Homo sapiens: one gene and its partners. The protein of the gene in region 6 purifies or fractionates together with the protein of the main gene of each other region. This does not show direct contact. Each region holds a gene or a part of one and is shown on either strand. Other genes may lie near its edges.

Region 1 (3,500 bases), about 30 Mb from region 6:
GATGCCACACTTTATTTTAGAGGAGCCCAGATCCTCAGAGATGCTGCCACTAACTCTAAGCATCTGTCTTTTAAAAAGGTCAAGGAGCTCTGCTTGGAGAGAGCAGAGACTATCAGAAAAGCGAAAATTTAGAAATCCTGTGGAGATAGTAACAGGGATTCTGTCAGCCAGAGAACAGGTAGCCCCTTACCTTCTCCATGTATGATACTTGCCTTTCAAATAATGATCAGAAAAGAAATTGGCAGGCATCAGATGCCTTCTGATGTGTTACACTGAAAATAGCCCTTCTGTGGTATTCCTCCCAAAAATGTATAACCTGAATCTAATTGTGAGGAAACATTAGACCAATCCCAGTTAAGGGTAAAATCTACTAACTCTGAGTGAAGCATATATGAGAATTATTTACACTAGTATTATAATTCTTAAGTTTGAAATGATTCTAAAATTAAAAGTTAAAACTTTTCTTATCTATAAAATGTGTGTAATCATACCTACCTCATAGGATTGTGAGAGTTCAGTAAAATAATAATTAGCATAGGCTGGGTGTAATGGGTTCATGCCTGTAATCCCAGCACTTTGGGAGGCTGAGGCAGGAGGATTGCTTGCGCCCAGGAGTTCGAGACCAGCCTTGGCAACATAGGGAGACCCCATCTCTACAAATAATTTTTTTAAATTAGCTGGGTGTGGTGGTGCATGCCTGTGGTCCCAGCTACTTGGGAGGCTGAAGTATGAGTATCACCTAAGCCTGGGAGGTGGAGGCTGCAGTGAGTTGTGATTATGCCACTACGCTCCAGCCTGGGTGACCCAGCAAGACCATGTCTCAAAATAATTATTATTCTATATTATACATTATATAACAAATACATAATTATATAAGGTACAGAGCTGCTGCCACATAATATATGCTCATTAAATAATAGCTGTTATTAAAATTGTCTCTTGCCATCCTCAGCAGGGTGGGAAATACCACTGTTCTTAAAAACTATTGCAGAGTCCAAGTGTCTGTAGCCTAGGGGAACCATCATCCTTCTGGTACACTAAGAGTTTAGGAACCTGAACATATTTTAATACAAATTGATACTGTTCAGATACTGAACAGTTCAGATTATCCTGTTCAGATTATCCTGTAGACACGAATTGATCACTTACTATGCATTAGATACTGTGCTATGTGCTGAGAATGAATAAGATGAATATATAAATGAGATAAGGTCCTGCTTTTAGAAGCACACAGACAGATAACCACTGTGCAGCAAAGTAAGTGCTGTCATGGAGTTAAACGGCACATGCTTCTGTAGGAGCATAAAGGAGAAATTGCTTACTGAAGAGCAAGGGAGCAGGGTAGAAAGAGATGTCAGCAGAGCTGAGTCTTGACATTTGTATAGGTGTTTTCTTAGTTTGGAAGTATATTCCAGGTACTGGGAACATGTGTGTTGTCTCCAAGGAAGGAGATAGCATGGCAGATTTAAGAAGCTAGAAATATTTTAATGTAGTTGGCAGATGAAATACATTTGGGGGAGTGGTACTATCTAAGGTAGGAGTCATGGGAGTCATATGTCAATATAATCACATATCACTGTAAGTATTTGGGTCTTACTCTTATCCTGTCTTATCCTTAAGAACAGGCAGTCTCACTGAAGTATTTTAAGGAAAGGAAGCGACATGATCCAAATTGCATTTAGGAAAATCACTCTGCCAAATGATTTAGAAAGATGTAAACCTAGAGGCAATGAGATTGGGCCAGGGGTTACTATAGTAATCTAGGCAAGAAGTAATAAGACCTAAACTTAAGCAAGGCCAGTATGTATTAGAGAAGAGTAGAGAGATGAAAGAGACGTTTATGGAATTAAAGAAAAAGAGTCACCCAGATTTGGTGACAACTTCAATTCAGGAGAGGCAGCAAGGACATTCTTGTTTATATGGCTCATTCAGTTGGATGAACAGTGATGCTATTGATCAAGATAGAAAATATAGAAGAAGAAATAGATGAGATTATGGGTGCAGAGAAAATAATAAGTTTATTTTCAAACACAGTAAGTTTGAGATCCTTCTGGGACATTGATGAGGTGCTATCCAGTGGCTAATTTGATCCTTGGCTATGAAGCTTCAGAGAGATCTAAGCTAAAGTTACAAATGTAAAAATCAGCCATCTATCAGCAGTCATTTGCAGCCAAAGGAAGAGTATGGTTCTCTATACTGAAAGAATAGAGAAAAGAATAAAGGCATAACCCTGCAGAGCACCAATATCCAAAGGTTGGCTGAAGTTGAGGAGAGGCAATTAAGAGAAGTAAGAGGAAAACCAGGAGAGATGTATCATGGAGTCCAAGGGGTATAGAGTTTTAAGAAGGCAAATAATGTTTAATGTAGTAGAAGAAATCAAATAATATAAGAGTCTAAGAAGTTGGGCATGGTGGTGTATGCCAATAGTCCTGGCTACTCAGGAGGCTGAGGCAGGAGGATTGCTTGAGGCCAAGAGTTAGAGGCTGTAGTGCACTATGATTATGCCTGTGACTAGCTACTGCACTCCAGCCTGGGCAGCATAGTGAGATCCCATCTCTAAAAAAAAAAAAACACACACAGTTAAGAGTCTAAGAAATCTTGGGTTTGGCCTTCGGGGGATCACTGATGATCTTGGAGAGAGCAGTTTCAATGGGGTAGTTGGTTAAATGGCTAAGTGGCACTTTCTACAGTTTCTAGAAATTTGGTCAGGGAATCTCATGGTAGCCCCTGGCTCCCTATTATCAGGAAGAAATAAGTTCCGTGATGCAAACGAACCTTTTATTTCTGTCTTGTATGAACTAAGGAAATTGTTTGGATTTTTCACTTCTAAGAATAGTTCAGCTATCTCAAGAAATGACAGCAACTTGATATTAGCTTTTGAAGTCCTGTGTTAAAAGGCTCCCCAGCTGCCTGTTTAGGTTAATGGGTCATGCTTTATTTCAACAGTATGGATGGATTTCGACTGGTGAAATTAAATGAGGTCATCCGACAAGTGGACATTGTTATTACCTGTACAGGTATGATAATGACATTTTAAATGGGGTGGCACTTGGGAATGTTTTTATGGAGCAGGTGCAAGATGATTGGAAATATTCTGAAAAACCAAACTCTAAAAGCTAGAGAGAGATAGTAGCCCACAAAGCCAGCCAGTCTTTCACATTCTTCCTAATTCTTTAGAGCTCCGACCAAAGGTATACGATTAGGTTATTCCTATGTAAAAATGTTTCTCTTCACCCTTGAAGACAACTGTTATATCTCCATTCATCCTAGGAGATAGCTAGAGATGAGATTCACTTATAAAGTTTTATTTGGGAAGCCAGATATTTTTTTTTTCCAAAAATATATTTATTTTTAAAAACAGAAAATCAGATCAGTTTTATAGAGTCAAATTTTCAAGAGACAAACCAGAGTTTGGATTCCAGCTTAGAGTGCAAGTGAAGCATCAGTAATCTCATGCAGAAGATTTGTCTCTGCAGGAGGTACATTCTGCTTGACTGCAA
Region 2 (3,500 bases), on a different chromosome or scaffold from region 6:
CCCAGAATTAATGATGGGGTCTGGGATTAGTTTTCAGTATTTTTCAAAACCTAATGGAAATAATATAATATACCTACACAGGTAAACCTTCTTCAAAAAAGAGCCTTTTCTCACTCCAAAGTCTTAGGCACTTTAATATTCTTTTAATAAGAAAAAACAAATATTTATAGAGAGAAATGGAAGAAAACAGAATTTTCCACATTGCAAGGATATCAGGGTTCCTTCTGCCTTTTACTTTCAGCACAATTGTTTCAACAGCAGCAAGGAGCCATCCTTTAAGACTTCAAATGTGCCAGTAACTCACGTTATTTTTCATATGCGGGGAACATAATTTCTGTTATAGCTTATAGGGGCTCAGTGACCAAGCTGCACGTTTGGAACCGATTTCAGATGAAAGAGACAGAATAACAGCAGGATATCCTGAAGTGAAATTCAAACCCTGGTGAGTTAAAACCACCATCTAACACCTTTCCCTCCCGAAGCAATTGCACAGAATCCTCTCAATCAAAAAAAATTCGAAGAACCTGTATAAAATGGCATTTCTTTAAATCATATTGCTCTTTGCAGCCCATAAAGCATTTCCAGATACATTCTTATTTTGATCCTTCCAAGGATGGCTGGTATACACAGGGCCTTATTCCATTTTACATAGAAAGAAACTGAGTGTTAGAGAAGTTAAGTGGTTTCTCTGAATTTCACACCTTTTTTGTCAAATATTTATTGAGTGCCTCTTAAAGGCCGGACTCCATGACCTTCAAGGATGGAGCCAAATCTCCCTGTTCCTCGTGTGATCTTCCTGTGCCCCCCTTTGGCCTGAACCTACTGTGTGGTTCACCCAGGGACTTCACCCTACATTACTACTGTGTGGTTCCCTGGAGACTGGGGGCTTAATCCGTCTCTGATATCTCCTTGATTGAATAGAATTTATAATTGGCCAACAATTTAACAAACGAATGCATTGTTTAAAGAATTATTTAAAGTTTTAAAAAATGTTTGATTCAGCCATCTTAGATCTATATTTTATGCTGATATGGACTTAAACATGTTGTTTTTATTATAATGCTTTGAAATTTGCATAAGAGCTACACATATTCTTTTATATGTATGAATTATTATGTAATAAAACATAAAAAGAACATGAGGCTTTGGTCCTTTTGTAGGCTTGGAATATTTTTAATATTACGCTAGGACTAAACCAGAGTTAGTCATCTCAGCCTTTATACCTACATATAAAGAGTTTGTTTCTGTGCCGTGTGATAGGGCAGCATCAGCCCATAGTCTTTTTTTTTTTTTTTTCCTTAAGCAAATCCATTCTTCAGGATCTCTCTCTGCAGAAGTTAAATCTCTTGAGTTGTGGAAATGGAATTTATGGTGCAGCTATAGGAGGCAGCCCCTGGTTGGTATTCCTGTAGAACAGGCAAGTTGCACACCACCTGTGAGAAGGTTCTTGTAAAAATATGTTAAATTTCTTTGAGAAGATCCAGGGCTCACTGCTATAGTTTGGCAGGAACCTGGTCTTTGGGAGAACTCAGAATTGGTGAGAATTCAGGACAGCAAAATTGTCTCTTTTAGGATTTGATATAGTGAGAGAATTGCAAAGGAAGTTTCTACTGTATTTGGGTGTTTTAGGCTTACTGCTTTGAACTTAGGTTAATATTCCCTCCTCTTTTCCCTGTCAGTATAAAAATATGAAATAATTACTGTTTTATGCCACTTTATTTCTGTCCTCGAAGGAAGCAATCAATAATTAAAAGCATGCTTTGTCTTCCTGGAGTCATGAATAATTAAATTGACTCCCCCCATCCACACACATCTTTTTTTGGACCTCAGATGTAGTTGAGGTAATCATACTTCTGAGTTCAAGGCATGCTTTTATCTGGTATATGCAAGGCAAATTTGATTTTTCAGAATGTTCCCTCTCATTTCCTGCTCTTCTCACAGACAGCTCCTCTATGGGTTTGGTTACGTATCTTTGAATACATGTGTATGTGTGTCCTGATGATCACTAGGGAACTAGACACACCTAGAACAAGGCACCCTGATTTTACTTGGCAGATTCAGACCTTGAGCTCTCTTCTGATCCTCCTGCTCACTCAGCGTTTTTCTGTGGCTGTGTCAGGGCAGGGGCCCCTGCACTGGCCCCTTCCTCCTGATGAGTGGCCTGTTCTGACACTTGAGGGAGGCAGGGCATTTTGAGGTCTCCTTTGCCTCTCAGGAACTTGCATTGTTAGCCCACCCACATCCCCAACCTTCACTTCTTTGGATTTCTAGGAAATCTGCAGTAGTTTAGGGGTGCAGTCCTTTGGCAGGGAATTAACTGAAGTACCTGCCTTTTCAGGGGTTGAACCCATGACCTTGGCCTCATTAGAGCTCTAACCAGTCACAAAGCACACACCTCACTTTGTGTAACTTCTGCTGACTTGTTCCTGCCACCCTCCGCGGCTTCCTATTCAATTGCAAAGGCGTTCACACCAACACAATAGAACAGAAGGAAATCAGATCTCTTCAAGACTTCTCTGAAGGACAGAAATATGCAATTTAGCAGGAAAATAATACAAAAAAGTCTTGAAGGTTCAGGAAACAACTTATCTTTCTAGTCCGTACATTCGCTGAGAATCCAGCTGTGTCTCTCAGATTCTTTTTCAATCAAAAATTTAAAAATAGCGTGGAACTCCTTGTGTTAATTTATTAACATAAAATCTAGCGACTCTTGTACATGAAGTGGAAGGTTTCGGATGACTAAGTGGAAATATTGTATGTATGTTATTAAAATGGATTGGGTTAGCTTTTATAGAAAAAGTGGATCTGAGAATTCATAAGTGCTTATCTTTGGCAAGTTTATAGTCCCTAGAGATAAAAATGAATGCGTGCTATAATAACAAAGACACTGTTGTGTCTTAGTGAGTGCACTGTGATGCTCAGGGTGTGTTGGTGCCCAGGGGACGCGGAGTCACCATGGAGGAGAGGAGAAACAAGGACAACTCCCTAGAGAAGTGAAATTCACACAGGGCTTGAAGACCTGAATGTATCTTGGGGGAGGGACGTGGTAAGATAATCTGGCTGTCCAAAAAGATACAGGTTTTTATTAGAGCCAAATAAAAAGCTCAAGGATTTTATGTCTTGGCACTTGGAAGGAGTTATGTTGAAATCTGTGTTCTGTTTAATCTGAGTACCAAGAAAGACTCTTCAGGGATGTAGGTACTGGCTCATATTTTTGATGAGATGGGGATTTTTCTTACTCTGGTGATGTTTGGATAGGAAACATTTGCTCATTTGCCACCTGAAAAATCTCTTCTCTGTCAATTCCGTGAATCCATGGTACAGTGACAGTTGCTGTTCACAGTGATAGCCTCATATGCTCTTAAAACCTCACCAATAAGACACATTTAATTATGAGCCAATAGTATACTCCCTAAGGGTAGGAATTCTACTTTTTAACTCAATCAAAAACATTTGTATTTGTGGACACTTAGTGGGTTCTATAGTTCTGGAAAACAACT
Region 3 (3,500 bases), on a different chromosome or scaffold from region 6:
TGAATGATTTGGAGCCAAGACTTCTGGACTCCTAAATATTAACCAATATGGGGGGCTGCTTCTACTTAGTTCCAAAGAGCAACACAGGCAGTAGGTATGGTGAGGAGTAAGAAAGGAAAAGTCCCCATAGACTGGAGTCATCAGGGACAACTTCCTGGTGGAAGGGGGCAACAGCCTTTGAGGGAGGGGGCGGGGAAATTTCACTAGCCAGAGACCCTCTTTGTGGCTGCCTCTCTGGTCCCAAGTGGAATTCTGCCCCTGGATCAAGGGTAATCTCTTGTTCTGACTCTCATTTGGAAGGTTTTATCGCCAACCTCTCTGTGCAGCGGCAGTTCTTCCCCACTGATGAGGACGAGATAGGAGCTGCCAAAGCCCTGATGAGACTTCAGGACACATACAGGCTGGACCCAGGCACAATTTCCAGAGGGGAACTTCCAGGTAACTCACCACTCCAGGCGTTGCCTGTCCCGCATGTGTCTCTTTAGTGGCGGGACAGGTTGGAGCCACCACCAACTTGTGGCCTTTAACCTCGGGTGCACCTCTGGTGCACCTCTTGGCTCACCAGTTTGTGCTGGACTCCCTCTCCCATGACAGGTTTCTCCCTCAGCCCCTGCCCTGCCACCTCCCTCCATGTATTAGCCAAGGCCCTCTCCTCTTGCATCTCAGAGAAAGCCAAAGTTGCTGCTCAGGAACCCCCTCCACGTCTGTCCCCAGAGCACCACACAGATCTGCATTCAGACCTGCTTCTTGTCTCCCACCCTCCAATGTCTTTTCATCTAAGGCTGATCTGGGCTTACTATCCCCCTGTCTTGAGTCCTCTTAGTTACAGTCTCTGCTCCTATACATTCTGTCTCCACCTCTCTGGGTTCTACCCTTGAGCTCCCATATAGGCTCTATTCTTGCTCATCTTAACACTTGCCTCCCTCGGTATCTGAGAGTCTTTCGAGTCTTTGCTGCTGATTCATCTCTTCTCCCCTCCTGGTTAGGCTACTGGATAGAGTAATCTACACTCTGTCCATTTTCCTGGTTCCCATATACTCCTGAACTCACAGTATCTGGCCTTTTTCCCCACTGTCACTGATGCTGTTCTTACAAGGTCATCAGTGGCCGCTTGGCTGGTAAACCCAGCGAACAAGGTTCACACATAATGTTCTTTAACTTCCCAGCAGCATTTGACAGATAGATTGCCTCATTCTTTGTGATGTTCTCTCCTCCTTTGAATTCTGGCATACTGATATCTGCTTCTCTTTTAGCCTCTCTGGTCATTTTCTCTCAAGTGGCCCCTCTCCCACTGACTTCCCAGTGTTAGTGTTTATAAGAAGATGTTTTGAGGGCTGCTGGAGACAAGTAACCCCAGCGATTCACTGTGTGAGGCTCATGCAGACCCAGCTTATTCCAGCTCCAGAACCTCAGCTGCCCCCTTTAGACTCCATTAGAGAGAGGGCAGTTCAGGGCACCTGCAAGATCTGTTCACTCTGTAGCCTTGAGATTGGTTGCTTGGAGGAGGGAACCATACCCTGGCGTTGACCTCTCACGTTCACTCAGCAAACCCATGAGTGTCCTGAATAGGGTTATGGGGCAGAAAGGAATTACTCCCTAGGACTCCATCCTTACCTCATCTTCTCCCTGAGCACCTTCCCCAGGTGAGCACAGCCATTTCCATCACCTGAGGTGGATGACATCCAGATCTGTGTTTCTTGCCAAGGCTTGTCTCCCGAGCTTCTAACCAGTGTAGACGGATGCCTTTGGGACATCTGTACTTGAATGTCCCATGGACTTCTCGAACTTCATGTGTCCTGAACTGAAATCCTCATCTCCTTGTAAACACTTTACCTTCCCCCTCATCCTTCTATCTCAGCAAAAAGGACCTCCATCCTCTGGCTGCCTAAGCCAGAAGCCTAAGGCCTATGGATTCTACCTCCTTCTCTCATGTCTTCCGTGCTTATCCCCTGACTCCAGCCTCACAGCTACTTTTTTCTCAATTTGATTATCAAAATACCATTCTGACTTGTCTCCTACCTCCAGCTTACTGCTTAAGACCATCCTCCATGTGGTCTTAAGCACACATTTGTTCACATGAGTTCCTGATTACTGTGCTTAATTTCCAAAGCTAAACCCAAACTCCTCCTGTGTGTGGTCTTTGGGGTCCTGCATGACTCCATTTTCCTGGCTTCCTTGCCCATTGTACTCAGCTTTCCCTATCACTCAGCTCTTTTGTCTCAACCCCTCTATAGGAATACCTTTACCCATGTCAGCTAGGCTACTCCATGTCTGATTGCCTATCAGCACTCAGCTCAGCTGTCACTCTCCCAAATGCTCTCCAGGGAGTAGACATTCGAGTTGGCTCTGGGGAGGATGCTGAGTGCCAGGGAGCCATTCTTAGCATTCTTGGCATCTGGGAGACATGTTGATAATAGCTACTGGTCATTAGCATCCTGGGGAGCATAGGAGACATCTTCATATGTCATCTTATTGAATTCTTGCCACAAGCTCTTTAAAATTGATGATATTATCTTTATTTAGAGATAAGGGGACTGAGACTTAGATATGGTAACTTGTCTATAGTCACACAGCTGGTTGGCGCCCTAGTGAGGCCAACACAAACCTAGTTTAGTTCAGCTCCAGAGCCCCAGCTCAGTCAGCTATGTTACTCTGCCCCAGCAATGTAGGTTCCTGGGCCTGCAGAGCCAGAGGAGACCTGTGGAGAAGGAAAAGGGGCTCCAGGAGCCCCCCAGTCCCTGGCCTACCTAGGGACTTCATCTTGTGTTTACTGTCCCCAACTTCCTATTCCTCGTTATTGGTTCCTGAGCCACCGGGGTTAGCAGACCCTGGTCTCTGAAGCATTTAGCCTACTGTGTAGTGGTTTCATTCCAGGCAGAAAGAGCCTTCTCTGAGTTCTTTTGTGTCAGCCATGCCCAGGTTGCTGTTAATGGGGCTGTGGGGAGTCTTCCTTGCTTTCCAGGGAGAGTCACAGCCCCCACTTCCCCTCCATGGTATCTGCTTTCTCATTATTCTCTGAGGAACCACACACATAGTCTTTCCCATCTTGAGCTCACCCTAAATCCTGCATCTCCCTATAGCTGCTTCTTCATATTGGCTTGAAACTATCTTCATGGTCACTTTCCAGCACTCCCTCTACAGCAGATGACCTTTGGTCATAAGACCCACTGAACTGATACTCAGCAAGGTCCCTGCCACTTAACAGCCAAAGCTGGCACTGCAACCTTGGCTCTTGGCCTCCCTTGGTGTCTCTCACACCACTCCCGCTCCCTCTGTTTCTCCTATCTTTAGTTCATTCTCAGGGTTATTCATTGTCTGTTCTTTCTGGGTAGGTGCTCCCTGGAGCTCTGGCCTTAGTCATCTTCTCCATTCTTTCCTCAGAGTTCCTGCAAGCTATTTTCCTCACCCATGGCTTGGTTGCCACCTAAATTTATGTTTTTTATATTCAGCTAATTTTTCCATCCTCTAGACTCATATGGCAAACTGCCCACCAGACATCT
Region 4 (3,500 bases), on a different chromosome or scaffold from region 6:
GTCCCCTTCCGAAGGCGCGACCCCATTTCGGGGGTTAGTGGGGCCGCTGAGTCCACTTGCGAAGGCGCCACCCCACGTGAGGGTGCTGTGGAGCATGGGAGACGTCCCTGCCTCTTGCATTTTAACGTGAAAAGGCAAGCTTGCGCCCATTAGACGAGGTTCAGTGAGTCATCAAAAGCGGCTCACCCCTAGGCCTGCAGCGGAACACTGCCGCGCTTTCAGAGCCCTTCTCTTCCTCGTAGCAATGCCCTCCCCACCTGAGGGCACCTTTGCCCCACGTCTTGCGTGAATCACATCCTCACTGTTCTTGAGTCTCACTGTACAGATGTGTCTAAACACCACATTGCTTGCTGTGCAGTGTAAAGTTGATTTATAGGGGCTTGTACTTTGCAGTCTCTGCTGTTGCTGTTCCCCGTCACTGCTTTTAGACTCCTCCGTGTTGACAGGCATCGCTGGGCCTTCCCTTCCTCGTGAGGAACGCCATTCAGTCCTCGCCTGCTGGACGTGTGCGTCACCACGGACGGTGTGGCTGTGAACGTGTTGTCCCCGTCTCCTGGGCACATACCCGGAGAGCCTCTCTAGGAGAGCCTTGCTTGGCCGTAGCAGACGGAGGGGTTTCATTTGCCAAGGCTTTTGTGGCAGGATTACAATGATTCCATCCAGGCGACTAAATGATACTGCAGTTTGGATTTAGTTTGCGTTTCCCTAATTCTCGGTGAGGTTGAGTGCTTTCCTATCTTGTTTCATTACACACAGACGCTCACACATGCTCCATTTAAATGAAGCAGGTTCACGTAGTGGGGCACACTGTGGGGTCTGAATCCATTTCTACCTTTTCCCAGCAGCATTTTTTTTTTTTTTTTTTTGAGATGGAGTTTCGCTCTTGTCCCCCAGGCTGTAGTGCAATGGTGTGATCCAAGCTCACCGCAACCTACGCCTCCCAGGTTCAAGCGATTTTCCTGCCTCAGCCTCCCGAGTAGCTGGGATTACAGGCATGCGCCACCACGCCTGGCTAATTTTGTATTTTTAGTAGAGATGGGGTTTCTCATGTTGGTCAGGCTGGTCTCAAACTCTCGACCTCAGTTGATCTGCCTGCCTCGGCCTCCCAAAGTGCTGGGATTACAGGTGTGAGCCACCGTGCCCAGCTCCCAGCAGCATTTATTTAGAAGGCTATCTTCACCAGCTATAGCAGGAGCTCAGTTCCATTATACCTGCAGGATCACTTCTGGTTTCCATTCCAGTCCACTGTTGGTCCACCTATGTGCCAGCACCACACTGTCTACATTATTGAGGTTCTATGGTGTGTTTGAATATCTGATGGGACTGATTCCTCTTCATTGCTCTTGTAGTCTGTCAGATTTTTTAAAAACAATTTTTTTGTAGAGTTGGGGTCTCCCTTTGTTTCCCAGGCTGGTCTCGAGCTCCTAAACTCACGCAATCCTTCCTTCCCAGCCTCCTGTATAGCTGGCATTACAGGTGCACAACAGTGCGCCCGGCTCTGCCAGATTTTTAAATGTATTTTTGAGACTTTGTTGTTAGCTGCATACAAACTTTTAACTGTTTGTAAACAGATTTCCTAGTGAAGCGGTTCCCATGATTCCGCGGTGGCACAGGCCTTTTGTTGTAAAGTATTCCTCTTTATGTCTCACGGTTCTTTTTGTTTCAGAGTCTGATTTATCCCGTACGAATGCGGCAGTGCCACCTTTCTCTTGGTTAGGATTTTCTTGATATGTCTTTTTCTATCCTTTTACCTTCTACATTTCTGCATCCTTAAACTTGAGTGTGTATGTTGTAAATAGTCTATAGTTAGCTTTAAAAATATATCCAGACTGCAGACTTTTTCTTATATCTGAATAAAGGCAATTAAAACAATTTATAAGCAAGAGAATTCACCCACTTTAAGAGCACAGTTGAGTGAGTCACTTTGCACGTCATTGCCGCCACAATCAGGACCAAGACTGTTCGCCCGTGGCATGGGGCTCCTCGTGCCCCTTGTGCTCAGTCCGTCTCCCACCTGTGTCCGGCAGCCGGTGCCTGCTGCGGGGCGAGCAGCACTGCCTACTCGGAATCCCATCTGCACAGAGCCATGGTGCGTGGAGCTGTGCGTCTGCTTCCTTTTCCCTGGCATCTTGCTGGTTTTGAGTGTGCTGGGTTGTGGGGTGGATCAGTGGCCCGTTCCTCCATCTTGAGAGTGCTGGGTCATGGTGTGGAGAGAGTGCTGGGTCGTGGCATGGATCAGTGGCCTGTTCCTCCCGTCTTGAGTGTACTGGGTCATGGCTTGGATCCGTGGCCCATTCCTCTCACCCTGAGCATGCTGAGTTGTGGTGTGGATCGGTGGCCCGTTCCTTCCGTCTTCAGCACACTGGGTCGTAGCGTGGATCAGCGGCCCCTTCCTTCCCTCCTGAGTGCTCTGGGTCATGTGGATCCCTCTGGTCCTTTCTTCCTGCTGCTGAGTGCTGTGGAGCCCATCCCACGGGTCTCCTCCGCTGGCTTCTCCAGTGGTCAGTGGAAGGTAACAGCGCTGATGAAGGTGTATATTTAACTACCTTTTTTTCTTATTGGGTTTTTAAAAGTTGCAAAGTTATCTTTTAAAGGTTTTTGTTTCTTTGTTTTTGTGAGATGAAGGTAAAAATCAGGCTTAAAGTGCTCCCTGTGTTTCCTAAGATGTGCCTGAGTGGGGAGCCTCGGCCAGGCGCACCCCACAGGGATGCAGGGCCACAGGTGGGAGATGTGCTTTTCTCCTGTGACTCTGCAGTAGGCTCTGGAGGGCAGGTCTCTGCCCTGGGTGGCACATGGACTCTCCTGATGCTGAGAGGCTCGGGCGCTGCACCCCGCCCTGCTGATGCTGAGATGCTTGGGTGCTCCACCCCGCCCTGCTGATGCTGAGATGCTCCGTTGCTGCACCCTGCCCTGCTGATGCTGAGATGCTCGGGCGCTCCACCCTGCCCTGCTGATGCTCAGAGCCTCGGGCGCTCCACCCCGCCCTGCTGACGCTCAGAGCCTGGGGCGTTCCACCCTGCCCTGCTGATGCTCAGAGCCTCGGGCGCTGCACCCCGCCCTGCTGATGCTCAGAGCCTCGGGCGCTGCACCCCGCCCTGCTGATGCTCAGAGCCTCGGGTGTTCCACCCTGCCCTGCTGATGCTCAGAGCCTCGGGCGCTCCACCCCGCCCTGCTGATGCTGAGATGCTCGGGCGCTCCACCCCGCCCTGCTGATGCTCAGAGCCTCAGGCGCTGCACCCACCCTGCTGAGTCTGAGAGGCTTGGGCAAGGTTTCAGCCTCAGACACGCTGGTGGGAAGTAGCACGCTTCCTCGCTCAGGCCCCAGCGCCCTCCTTGGCCTCAGCTTGTGGAGCTGTTAGAGGAGCAAGTGCTCTGTGCAGCTGGAGTTCCGAGGCATGGTCCCCAGAACGGCCAGTGTGTTTCGGGTTCAGCATCAGCACAGGAGCCCTTCCGTGCTGCCACGTGACCCCTGGAGCTCGTTGATCCACTACCTGTGTGTT
Region 5 (3,486 bases), on a different chromosome or scaffold from region 6:
AAGCGCTAGCTGAGGCTGCAGACGTGGGGGCACAAATGATAAAGCTTGTGGGGCTGAGGGAGTTGTCCGAGGCCGAGCGGCAGCTTCGCAGCCTAGTGGTGGCCCTGATGCAGGAGGTCTTCACAGAGTTCTTCCCTGGTAAGTTACCTCCCCTACTATGTCTGAGCCCTCCCTGGCCTTTGCTCTCCTGTGTCTGTATCCCCAGTCCTTCCTCCGCTAGAGGTGTTTGGTTGCTCTTCCATCTTTGTGCTCTGTTTTGTTCTTCCCCCTGCTCCTCCCTAACTTCTCTTGACCTTTCTTCTCTGCTCGGCACCCAGGCTGTGTGGTCCACCCTTTTGGCTCTTCCATAAATAGCTTCGATGTCCATGGCTGTGATCTTGACCTCTTCTTGGATCTGGGTGACTTGGAAGAGCCCCAGGTGAGTGAGTGTCCCAGGGAGGCAGCTGGGAAAAGTCCATGAGAATGGCCATGTGACTGTGGGCAAGTCCTTTAGCTCTCCATGTCTTAGTTCCTCATCTACAATGCAGATAATAGGACCTACCTGAAAGAGTTTATTGTAATTGGAGAGATGTGAATATGGATGAGTATTAGATAGGATGAAAATGAACTGACAGGGCCAGGCGCAGTGGCTCGCGCCTGTAATCCCAGCACTTTGGGAGGCTGAGGTGGGTGGATCACCTGAGGTCAGGAGTTCAAGACCAGCCTGGCCAACATATAGTGAAACCCCCATCTCTACTAAAAAAAAAATACAAAAATTAGCTGGGTGTGTGGTGTACACCTGTAGTCCCAGCTACTTGGGAGGCCGAGGCAGGAGAATCACTTGAACCCGGGAGGCAGAGGTTGCAGTGAGCCGAGATTGTGCCACTACACTCCAGCCTGGGTGACAGAGGGAGACTCCTCAAAAAAAAAAAAAAAAAAAAAAGAATTGACATGGATACCTGGCAGTCATAACAAAAAAAAAATTTCAAAATGGTGTGTGCAATATGATCTTATTTTGGAAAAAATATATTTAAAATTATACAATAAGGTCCTTTTAGTTTTGCTTATGTGTATTTTTTTTTTTTGAGAGACCGTCTAACTCTGTCACCCAAAATGGAGTACAGTGCTGTGATCTCGGCTCACTGCAACCTCCACCTCCTGGGTTCAAGTGATTCTCGTGCCTCAGCCTCCCAAGTAGCTCGGAATACAGGCACACGCCACCATGCCTGGCTAATTTTTTGTATTTTTAGTAGAGATGGGATTTCTTCATGTAGGCCAGACTGGTCTTGGACTCCTGGCCTCAAGTGATCCACCCACCTTGGCCTCCCAAAGTGCTGGGATTACAGGAATGAGCTACCATGCCCGGCCACTTAACCTGTATTTTCTAACATCTAATGTACAGATTCTGTTTAGGAAAGGATTATTATTATTACTTAGAAATAGGGTCTCACTATGTTTCCCAGGCTGGTCTCGAACTCCTGGGCTCAAGGAATCCTCCTGCCTCATTCTCCCAAATTGTTGGGATTACAGGTTTAAGCCCCCATGCCCAGCCTATTATTATTTTCAAAAAATAGACTTGGCCGGGCGCGGTGGTTCACGCCTGTGTAATGCCAGCACTTTGGGAGGCAAGGCAGGTGGATCACCTGAGGTCAGGAGTTTGAGACCAGCCTGGCCAACATGGTGAAATGCTGTCTCTACTAAAAATACAAAAATCAGCCGGGTATGGTGGCACGTACCTGTAATCCCAGCTACTCAGGAGGCTGAGGCAGGAGAGACAGCTTGAACCCAGGAGGCGGAGGTTGCAGTGAGCCGAGATCGCGCCACTGCACTCCAGCCTGGATGACAGATTGAGACTCCATCTCAAAAAAAAAAAAAAAAAAATGGACTTTATTTTTTAGAGCAGTGTTAGATTCACAGCAAAAGTGAGCAGAAAGTAGTTTCTATATGCCTGCTGCCCCCGCAACAGGAGTTTTAAAATGTTTTATCATTATTTTTATCTTTCTCTACACACACACACTCTCTATTTATATTTTCTGAATCATCTGAGAGAAGGTTGCATGTATCACATTCCTTTACCCCTCAATACTTCAATGTGTGTTATGCAAGAACAAAGGTATTCTAGTGTAAAGGTATTCTAGTGTATAACCACAGTACCATTATCAAGTTGAGGAAATGTTACATTGACACAGATGTAAACCTTTACAGACTTTACAGTCCATACTCTAATTTGGTCAGCTGTCCTGTCAATGGACTGTTACAGTTTCTCTTTCGTCTGTAATAGTTCCTCTGTTTTTGTCTTTCACGACAATGACATTTTTTGCAGAGGTAGACCTTTTATTTTATAGAATTAAAAGGTTATCTTTAAAAAAAAAAAGGGTTCCTGTGAAGATTAAATGAGTTAATATGTATAAAGACCTTAGAATAGAGCTGAATAAGCTGGAAGTAATATTATCTTGAGAGATCCCTGCTTAGGGAACAGCAGAAACATTTCACTCAGTTCATTTCTGTCCACAGCCAGTCCCAAAGGCTCCAGAATCTCCATCGCTGGACTCGGCCCTGGCTTCCCCACTGGACCCTCAAGCCCTGGCCTGCACCCCAGCTTCCCCTCCAGATTCACAACCTCCTGCTTCTCCCCAGGATTCTGAAGCCCTGGACTTTGAAACCCCTTCCTCCTCCCTGGCGCCCCAAACTCCGGACTCTGCCTTGGCCTCCGAGACCCTTGCTTCTCCCCAGTCTCTGCCTCCAGCTTCACCACTGCTAGAGGACAGGGAAGAGGGGGACCTGGGGAAGGCCTCGGAACTAGCAGAGACCCCAAAGGAGGAGAAAGCAGAGGGGGCAGCAATGCTGGAGCTGGTGGGATCCATTCTCCGGGGCTGTGTCCCTGGGGTGTATCGAGTCCAAACTGTGCCCTCTGCCCGGCGCCCTGTGGTCAAGTTCTGTCATCGGCCTTCAGGTCTCCACGGTGATGTCTCCCTCAGTAACCGGTACCTTTCTTTTTTTTGAGACGACATTTCACTCGTTGCCCAGGCTGGAGTACAGTGGTGCCATCTTGGCTCTCTGCAACCTCTGCCTCCCAGGTTGAAGTGATTCTCCTGCCTCAGCCTCCCAAGTAGCTGGGATTACAGGCATGCGCCACCACGCCTGGCTAATTTTGTATTTTTAGTAGAGACGGGGTTTCTCCATGTTGGTCAGGCTGGTCTTGAACTCCCGACCTCAGGTGATCACCTGCCTCGGCCTCCCAAAGTGCGGGGACTACAGGCGTGAGGCACCATACCTTTCTTTGGGGCAGGCCAGCTGAGAATTCTGGGATGGGCCAGGAGAGTCTGGCTTGGGAAACTCCTGCACCTGCCAAGTCTCAAGTTTGTCCTTGTTTGGGACCATCCCTCTTTCTGTCCCTTATCTCCTCCTGCCTGGCTTCCATTTCAGTGTTTGTAAAGTGTGTTCCTTAGAATACTACTTTTTTTTTTTTTTTTTTTTTTTTGTGAGACGGAGATTTACTCTTGTTGC
Region 6 (3,500 bases):
CGTCTCCAAACCACGAGCAAGACATTCATTCTTACTTTAGTTCAGCAAGCTTCAGCTTATGGAGCTCCACTGTCTTGGTCGCCATCTTGTTACCCCTCTGGCTGTGCTCTTTTAATAATTGTATGTGGGCCGGGCTAATCCATCAGAAGTATCACTAGGGGTCAGGCGTGGTGGCTTACGCCTGTAATCCCAGCACTTTGGGAGGCCGAGGTGGATGGATCACCTGAGGTCAGGAGTTTGAGACCAGCCTGGCCAACATGGTGAAACATCGTCTCTACTAAAAATTCAAAAATTAGCTGGGCATGGTGACGCCCGTCTGTAATCCCAGCTACTGGGGAGGCTGAGGCAGGAGAATCACTTGAACCTGTTAGGCAGAGGTTGTAGTGAGCCAAGATCGCACCACTGCACTCCAGCCTAGGTAACAGAGTGAGACTCTGTCTTAACAAAACAAAACAAAAAAAAAAGAAAGAAAGAAGTATCACTAGGTACAACCTAAACTTTCCATGGTCTGGGCATTTTTCTCCCTGTAGGAAAATTTATTTAGGAGACTTAAATATTAATCAGAAGCTTGAAAAAGAGAGCAGAGAATCAGAGCAAAGGGCTGGTTTTAATGAATGGTTTTGGTGAGTTTTGCTTCTATAACGTAGTCATTTACCACTGAGGTAGGAGACTTTCTGGCAGATCAGCCAGGCCACCTTCACACTGTCCAGTCAGAACGTCATTACCTCCACTGAGTTTCTGGTCTCATTCCCATGTCTTTGCTCAGTAATTCTGCCCTTCTGACCAGCCACCTTCTGTTAGCACAGCCATCCCTAACACAGGGCATTCTGTCTCTCTGTTGACTAATACAGTAGCCACTAGTCACATGTGGCAGTTCAAATTTAAGTAAAATCAAATCACATTTAAAACAAAATTCTCAGACACACTAGTCATATTTCAAGTGCTCAGTAGTCACATGGGGCTAGCAGCTGCCATATTGGACAGCAGAAGTGTACAGCGGCCTCATTCTGGTCGGACCTCCATGGTGGTCTTGCCAGGCCACCCGTTAGAAGTCTCACACATCCCCAGAGGCTGGCTCTGTCCCATCAGGTCCTGTCCCAGAAGGGACACGTCCCTCCATGTGTATACATCACATTTCCTCAATTCTGAAATTGGTCTTTCCTTTTTTTTTTTTTTTAAAAAAGAGGCAGCATCTTACTCTGTCACCCAGGCTGGAGTGCAGTGGCACAGTCATAGCTGACTGCAAGCTTGACCTCCTGGGCCCAAGTGATCCTCCCACCTCAGCCTCCTCAGTAGCCAGGACTACAGGTGTACACCACCATACCCAGCTTTTTTTTTTTTTTTTTTTTTTTTTTTTTTTTTTTTTAACGGAGTTTTGCTCTTGTTGCCCAGGCTGGAGTGCAGTGGTGTCATCTTGGTTCACTGCAACTTCTGCCTCCTGGGTTCAAGCAATTCTCCTGCCTCAGCCTCCTGAGTAGCTGGGATTACAGGTGCACACCACCACGCCCAGCTAATTTTTTGTATTTTTAGTAGAGACAGGGTTTCATTATGTTGGCCAGGCTGGTCTCGAACTCCTGACCTCAGGTGATGCACCTGCCTTGGCCTCCCAAACTACTGCGATTGCAGGTGTGAGCCACTGTGCCTGGTCCCCAAGCTTGCTTGGCTGGCTTACTTACTTACTTACTTATTTATTTATGTAGTGAAGACAAGATCTCAGGCTGATCTCGAACTTCTTGGCTCAAGTGATTCTCCTGTCTTGGCCTTCCAAAGTGCTAGGATCATAGATTTGAGCTCCTACACCCGGCCAAGTTCCTTTCTTTTTTTTTTTCTTTTTTTTTTTTTTGAGACAGAGTTTTGTTCTTGTCATCCAGGCTGGAGTGCAATGGCGTGATCTCCGGTCACTGCAACCTCCGCCTCCTGGGTTCAAGCGATTCTCCAGCCTCAGCCTCCCAAGTAGCTGGGATTACAGGCACCCACCCGCAAGCCGGGCTAATTTTTTTTGTACTTTTAGTAGAGATGGGGTTTCACCATGTCAGCCAGGCTGGTCTCGAACTCCTGACCTCGTGATCTACCCACCTCAGCCTCCCAGCACCTCCCCCCTTTTAATTCCTCCATCTTACAGTAATATCTGTGAGATCATGAGTAACTTTTTTTTTTTTTTTTTTGAAAAGGTGTCTTGCTCTGTTGCCCAGGCTGGTGTGCAGTGGCGCGATCTCTGCTCACTGCAAGCTCCGCCTCCCGGGTTCACGCTGTTGTCCTGCCTCAGCCTCCCGAGTAGCTGGGACTATAGGCGCCAGCCACCATGCGCGGCTAATTTTTTGTATTTTTAGAAGAGACAGGATTTCACCGTGACAGCCAGGATGGTCTCCGTGCCAGCCAGGATGGTCTCGATCTCCTGACCTTGTGATCCGCCCACCTCGGCCTTCCAAAGTGCTGGGATTACCAGCGTGATCCACTGCGCCCGGCCATGAGTAACTATTAAAATGTAAAATGTCTGTCAGTGTAGTACCTCAAATCATGTTGCCTTCTGTGAGGGGGACCTCTGCCCCTTTCCAGGACGTGATGCCTTCAGGTGGCTCCAGGAGTTAGGAAGTGAAGGTACCTCAGCTTCTTCAGGCCGTGTCCCCCAGGCTCAGGGTGGCCTCTCTGCTGACACCCTGTCCCTATCTTGCCGGCAGGGGGCATGTGTCCGTTTCGCCACATCAGTGGTGAGAAGACAGTTGTGTGCAAACACTGGCTGCGTGGCCTATGCAAGAAAGGGGACCAGTGTGAGTTCCTGCATGAGTATGACATGACCAAGATGCCCGAGTGCTACTTCTACTCCAAGTTCGGTAAGGCGCCTGGAGCCCTGGAGGCTCTGCTGAGAACCAGGGTGCAGAGGGGTCCGCTGGCTGCTCAGTGCCCACACTGTCTCTGCCTGCTTTTCCCATCTTTCTATTCTCAGAGGAGAACTCTGGCAGAACCTGCCAGCCTCAGCCAGCTTTTAGGGGACAGTGTGGCTATTTTCTGCTCATCTCTTTTTTTTTTTTTTTTTTTTTAAAGACATAGGGTCTCGCTATGTTTCACATACTGGTCTTGAACTCCTGGGCTCGAGTGATCTGCCTGCCTCAGCCTCCCAAAGTGCTGGGATTACAGGCGTGAGCCACCACGCCTGGCCCCGCGCATCACTTTGGAGTGCTTCAGTGTTTGGAGCTCTTTCAATCACTCGGATTTGAGGCTAACGAGGGTGACCCGGAAGCAGCGAGTTGTGCAGCTGGCTGCATTATGTCCGTGGTTGGTTTCTGTCCACGTCCACCTTCTCCCTGAAACCCACTTCTCCCTCCAGCGTGGGCATTGCCTCTCAGGCCCGAGCTGGTTCCTTCTCTCCAGGAGCCATGATCCTGGTGACATCTCAGCCATCCTAAATAGCCCTTCAAAATAACAGCCTCAGATGTGTCTTCTGGTAGCAACAAACTTGCCTTGAGCCCTGCTTAGAGAATGCGTGGCCTCAGCTGTCCTGA
Region 7 (4,148 bases), on a different chromosome or scaffold from region 6:
CATCACCACCATCACCACCACCACCATCGCCACCACCATCACCATCACCAACATCATCACCACCATCACCATCATCACCACCGTCACCACCATCACCACCACCATCATCATCATAATTATCATCATGACATGTCAACATAATCATGTCTTCACCATCATCATCATCATCACCATCACCATCATCAACACCACCACCACCATCATCATCACCATCACCACCATCACCATCATCATGACATCATATCACCAACATAATCACCACCATCATCGTCATCACCACCACCTCCGCTACCACCAGCATTCCTCTTTTCCCTAGCCCTTTCTTGCCAATCTGGAGCAAAATATGGAAATGGGTTAAGTGGAGAACTAATCTCCCTTTCTTCCACTCATCCCAATTCCCACAAGAGAGGCCACGTGTGTGGTTTCCAGATGGCAAAGTCTCACCCTGCCCTACAGCAAGAGGGGACCCCTGGGGCCAGATTCCTGAGCACCTAGTTTTGGCTGCAATAGTGACAGTCTGGGTGATGATGTCAGGGTGGCCAGGTCCCCTCCCAGGGTTGGCACTTCCCCATCTATCGGTGTGGCATCGGAGGATTCCAGTGAGATGTAACATGGGGAGTGGCTGGAAAAATACTCTGTAACTGTATGGCGAATGCCAAGGGGCAGGGGTCCTTGTATACACCGAAGTAATCCCGAGTCAGTTTACAGGATGGGAAGGGCCCCTATATAGATGACCAGGGTCCTTATGCAGGTAGAAGGGGTCCTTATGCAGCATGAAGGCTTGCTACACAGGCGTGTGGATTTTTCCATACATTCTGGAGTAGCCTCTACACATAGGAGTGTTTGTGCTTAGAAGCTGTGTCCTTATGCAGGCTAGGAATAAAAGTGGGACGGAGATTTTACACAAATACGGGCATCTTTTACAGGTGGGAGCACTTTCGTACACAGAGGACTTCTTATCCATGGAATTGGCCGTTCTTTGTAAAACGCTCTGTACTTACTAGCAACCTTTACACAGACATGAAGTTTCTCCATAAGGATAAAGGGATCATTATGTTTTAGGTGAAATAACAGTATGAGTGGCCTCGTATGGACAAGGAGGGCTGATTTCAATCGCGATGCAAGCCAGCTGTCCGGATGCCGCCGACGCCAGCAGCGCGGTACCTGCGCGGGCAGCAGGTGGGAGCCGCGACCGGGGTGGGGCGCGGAGCGCTGGGGGCCTCCCGACTCCCGCAGTCCCCGCCGCGACCACCAGGGGCAGCACCGTCCCCGCCCGGCCCGCGCCTCCCTCCCCCCAATCTCCGCCCCCCACCCCCTGCCTCCCCCCCGCTCCCGCTCCCCTGAGCCCAGCCAGACCCCGCGCCGCCCGCGCCCCGCTCGACTCCGGAGGCTCCCGCAGCCCCGGCGTCCGCCCCGCTGCCCCCTCCCCCGGGGGCCATGGGGGCGCCCCCGGGCTACCGGCCCTCAGCTTGGGTGCATCTCCTCCACCAGCTGCCCCGCGCCGACTTCCAGCTCCGCCCGGTGCCCAGCGTTTTCGCGCCCCAAGAGCAGGAATACCAGCAGGTGGGACCGGGCGCCAGGGCCTGGGGGCCAGGGCTGGGGGCCGGAGCTCCTGGGTCCCGAGGGAGAAGGGGGCTGGGTCACAGATTTCCTGAGCTCCGCCGGAGGCTGGGGGCCGGCCCGGACTTTGGGGTTTCGGAGGGAGGAGGAGCCTGGGGGCGCCCATGCCTGGAGGTTCTCCTGGGACGCGCGCTGGGGGTCCAGACCTCGAGCTCTCTAAATAAGGGAAGGCTGGGGACCTGCACCCCTGAGTTCATGGAGAGGAGGGGAGGGGGGCCCGGATTCCCGGGTGTCTGATACCTGCCTGGGAAGCCGGCCTCCAGGGTCATCGGGAGGGTAGGTCTACTCTTCCTGCCCTAAAAGATGACCCTGCCCCACAGGATCAGAGCAGGTGAATATGTCCCAGATAAGGTGGGACCCAGGAGACAGCGGACCTGATAACGGTGGCGGGGAAAACGCTGGCTGCTGCGGTGCTGGGATGGGATTGAGAGTCTGAAATGGGGAAGGGGGCTTCAGGGGCTGAGGACCAGGGCTGGAAAATGAAGGGGCTCTGGGAGAGGAAGCTTCTTGCCCGTCCCAAGAAAGAAGGGGTGGTCAGGGCGCTGCAGGGGTGAGGGCCGAGATGAGGCTGGGTTTGGGGAGCCTCGGGATGACAGACCCGGGTCCCGAGGGTGGGGCCGGTGTGGGAACCTCACAGAAGCCGGTGTCCCTGGGGAAGGGGCCCGGCTCGGGGCAGCTCCAATGGGCGAAAGAGCTGTCCCCTGACCCAGTTTAATTCAAGTCCTTGACTTCGAGATTAATGAGGAGAAAGGCTTGGCTGAGCTGGGGACGGGTGGGGGTGCTGGGAGTCCCGATGTGGCCCCAGGACGGGTCCTGGCCCTGCTGATGGGGCCTGAGCCCCTGGGCTCCGTCTTGGGTTGCTCCTGGGAGAAGGGGGCTGGGATTGGAGAGCTCAGGGGGCGTGGAGGGGGTCCCAGAAAAGCGCGGAGGGGATGAGTGCTGTGTTCTGAGCTATTTGGGTCACGGCTGGCACAGCCCTGAGCAGCTCTTCCCCGCCTGCTCCTCGCCGCCCCCTCTCCCCACACACGGGGACCGCCGTCCCCTCGCCCACAGCCTCGCGGTTACACAACGGCCACCTCCAACAACGCCGCTCCACCGGCTCCGGCCTCGGCCCAGACTCACGCCCGCTCTGGCCCGGAGACCTCCCGAAGCCGCACGCGGGGATCCGCGGCCCCAGTCACCGCCAGAGGCACGGGTTTGGGGGAGCCTCACTCCGCCCCCACGGTCGGGGGTCAGGGTCAGGGTGGCAGGGATGCGCGGGCAGAGCCCCACAGCCGAGGAGGGCAAGGGGGACCCCTGCAGGGACGCGACCACCGTGGGTACAGCTGCAGACACAGCCAGGGCCTCAGGGACACTGGCCCGGGGGAGGCACACAGCCACACGCACACACTCACTGGCATATGCACAGCACACACACACGTCCACTTACTCCCATTACACACTCACATGCACACACATATGCACAGGCACACCCAGACACGCCCACTTATTCCAACACACTCACATGCACACACATATGCACAGGCACACTCAGACACACCCACTTACTCCCATTACACACTCACATGCACACTCACATGCACACACTCAGACACGCCCACTTACTTTCATTACACACATGCACACACACATATGCACAGGTACACACACACGCCCACCTACTCTCATTACACACTCACATATGCACACACACATACCCATTTACTACTCCCGCTATGCACTCACACCCACATACAACACACGCATATAGACACATGCATACACTCACATGGATATACCCACTTACACATACACAATCACACATATGCACACGCACATTGCGCACAGTGACTCACAACACACACATACACATGTATAAGCATTTACTCCCATATACAAGCACACACTGCACTTATATATATATGCTTACACACTCATGCATGCACCGTCACATACACGTTTATACTCCCATACACACACACACGTACATTCCATTCACATCTACACACACATGCACACACATATTGACTATAGCATTCATGTGCACACACACACTCACATGCAGTCACGCATCCACACACACACTCATCCACACTGTTACACACACACAACCGGACCCACTCACAGGCCCAAGGAACTGTGCCCAGAACACACAAATGCCCACAGATGTTCTCATTTGCAGACAGCAGTGCACCCAGGAGACACACTCAGGTGCCCCCTCATCTCATGGAGACAGCCCAAAGATAAAAACATCCAGTCTCAACCAGAAACACAAACACTGCACACACTTGGGACACACACACACACACACACTGTGCCACTGTGTGTGTGTATGTGTGTGGACAAAGGCAGAAACACCGTGGTTTAGGGGAAACAGCCTTGGCAAGTCCAGAGGTGTGACTCTGATCCCAATGTTGTCCCTCCATGCTCCGGGGCTCAGTGCAAACCCCCTGGGCCACTGTGGGCCTCTGGGACCGCACAGGTCAGCTGTGAAATCCCCGCCACGTGGAGAGCCCTGTTATTCTGCAAGGCTCTGCCCACCGCAGAAC

The links.
Region 1: the proteins of CPSF4 (region 6) and AHCYL2 purify together in Homo sapiens (affinity purification with mass spectrometry; one large-scale study listed by BioGRID and IntAct). This does not show direct contact.
Region 2: the proteins of CPSF4 (region 6) and SMYD2 purify together in Homo sapiens (affinity purification with mass spectrometry; 2 studies listed by BioGRID and IntAct, with this or other methods). This does not show direct contact.
Region 3: the proteins of CPSF4 (region 6) and P4HA2 purify together in Homo sapiens (co-immunoprecipitation; 3 studies listed by BioGRID and IntAct, with this or other methods). This does not show direct contact.
Region 4: the proteins of CPSF4 (region 6) and WRAP73 purify together in Homo sapiens (co-immunoprecipitation; one study listed by IntAct). This does not show direct contact.
Region 5: the proteins of CPSF4 (region 6) and TUT1 purify together in Homo sapiens (pull-down; one study listed by IntAct). This does not show direct contact.
Region 7: the proteins of CPSF4 (region 6) and TTYH1 purify together in Homo sapiens (affinity purification with mass spectrometry; one large-scale study listed by BioGRID and IntAct). This does not show direct contact.

The regions. Positions count from the first base shown.
Region 1 is NC_000007.14:129,406,530-129,410,029, forward strand, and holds part of AHCYL2 (adenosylhomocysteinase 3), read left to right. Parts: intron 1-2,946; coding exon 2,947-3,017; intron 3,018-3,328; exon of another isoform or gene 3,329-3,500. UniProt on the Homo sapiens protein: May regulate the electrogenic sodium/bicarbonate cotransporter SLC4A4 activity and Mg(2+)-sensitivity. On the contrary of its homolog AHCYL1, does not regulate ITPR1 sensitivity to inositol 1,4,5-trisphosphate.
Region 2 is NC_000001.11:214,287,659-214,291,158, forward strand, and holds part of SMYD2 (N-lysine methyltransferase SMYD2), read left to right. Parts: intron 1-3,500. UniProt on the Homo sapiens protein: Protein-lysine N-methyltransferase that methylates both histones and non-histone proteins, including p53/TP53 and RB1. Specifically trimethylates histone H3 'Lys-4' (H3K4me3) in vivo. The activity requires interaction with HSP90alpha.
Region 3 is NC_000005.10:132,210,854-132,214,353, reverse strand, and holds part of P4HA2 (prolyl 4-hydroxylase subunit alpha-2 isoform 2 precursor), read left to right. Parts: intron 1-300; coding exon 301-438; intron 439-3,500. UniProt on the Homo sapiens protein: Catalyzes the post-translational formation of 4-hydroxyproline in -Xaa-Pro-Gly- sequences in collagens and other proteins.
Region 4 is NC_000001.11:3,640,104-3,643,603, reverse strand, and holds part of WRAP73 (WD repeat-containing protein WRAP73), read left to right. Parts: intron 1-3,500.
Region 5 is NC_000011.10:62,578,038-62,581,523, reverse strand, and holds part of TUT1 (speckle targeted PIP5K1A-regulated poly(A) polymerase), read left to right. Parts: coding exon 1-138; intron 139-317; coding exon 318-418; intron 419-2,493; coding exon 2,494-2,963; intron 2,964-3,486. UniProt on the Homo sapiens protein: Poly(A) polymerase that creates the 3'-poly(A) tail of specific pre-mRNAs. Localizes to nuclear speckles together with PIP5K1A and mediates polyadenylation of a select set of mRNAs, such as HMOX1.
Region 6 is NC_000007.14:99,445,443-99,448,942, forward strand, and holds part of CPSF4 (cleavage and polyadenylation specificity factor subunit 4), read left to right. Parts: intron 1-2,678; coding exon 2,679-2,831; intron 2,832-3,500. UniProt on the Homo sapiens protein: Component of the cleavage and polyadenylation specificity factor (CPSF) complex that play a key role in pre-mRNA 3'-end formation, recognizing the AAUAAA signal sequence and interacting with poly(A) polymerase and other factors to bring about cleavage and poly(A) addition.
Region 7 is NC_000019.10:54,414,116-54,418,263, forward strand, and holds the start of TTYH1 (protein tweety homolog 1), read left to right. Parts: upstream 1-1,348; 5' UTR 1,349-1,437; coding exon 1,438-1,563; intron 1,564-2,986; exon of another isoform or gene 2,987-3,020; coding exon of another isoform or gene 3,021-4,148. Other genes in the region: LIM domain-containing protein A-like, read left to right, coding at 3,021-4,148. UniProt on the Homo sapiens protein: Calcium-independent, swelling-dependent volume-regulated anion channel (VRAC-swell) which plays a pivotal role in the process of regulatory volume decrease (RVD) in the brain through the efflux of anions like chloride and organic osmolytes like glutamate.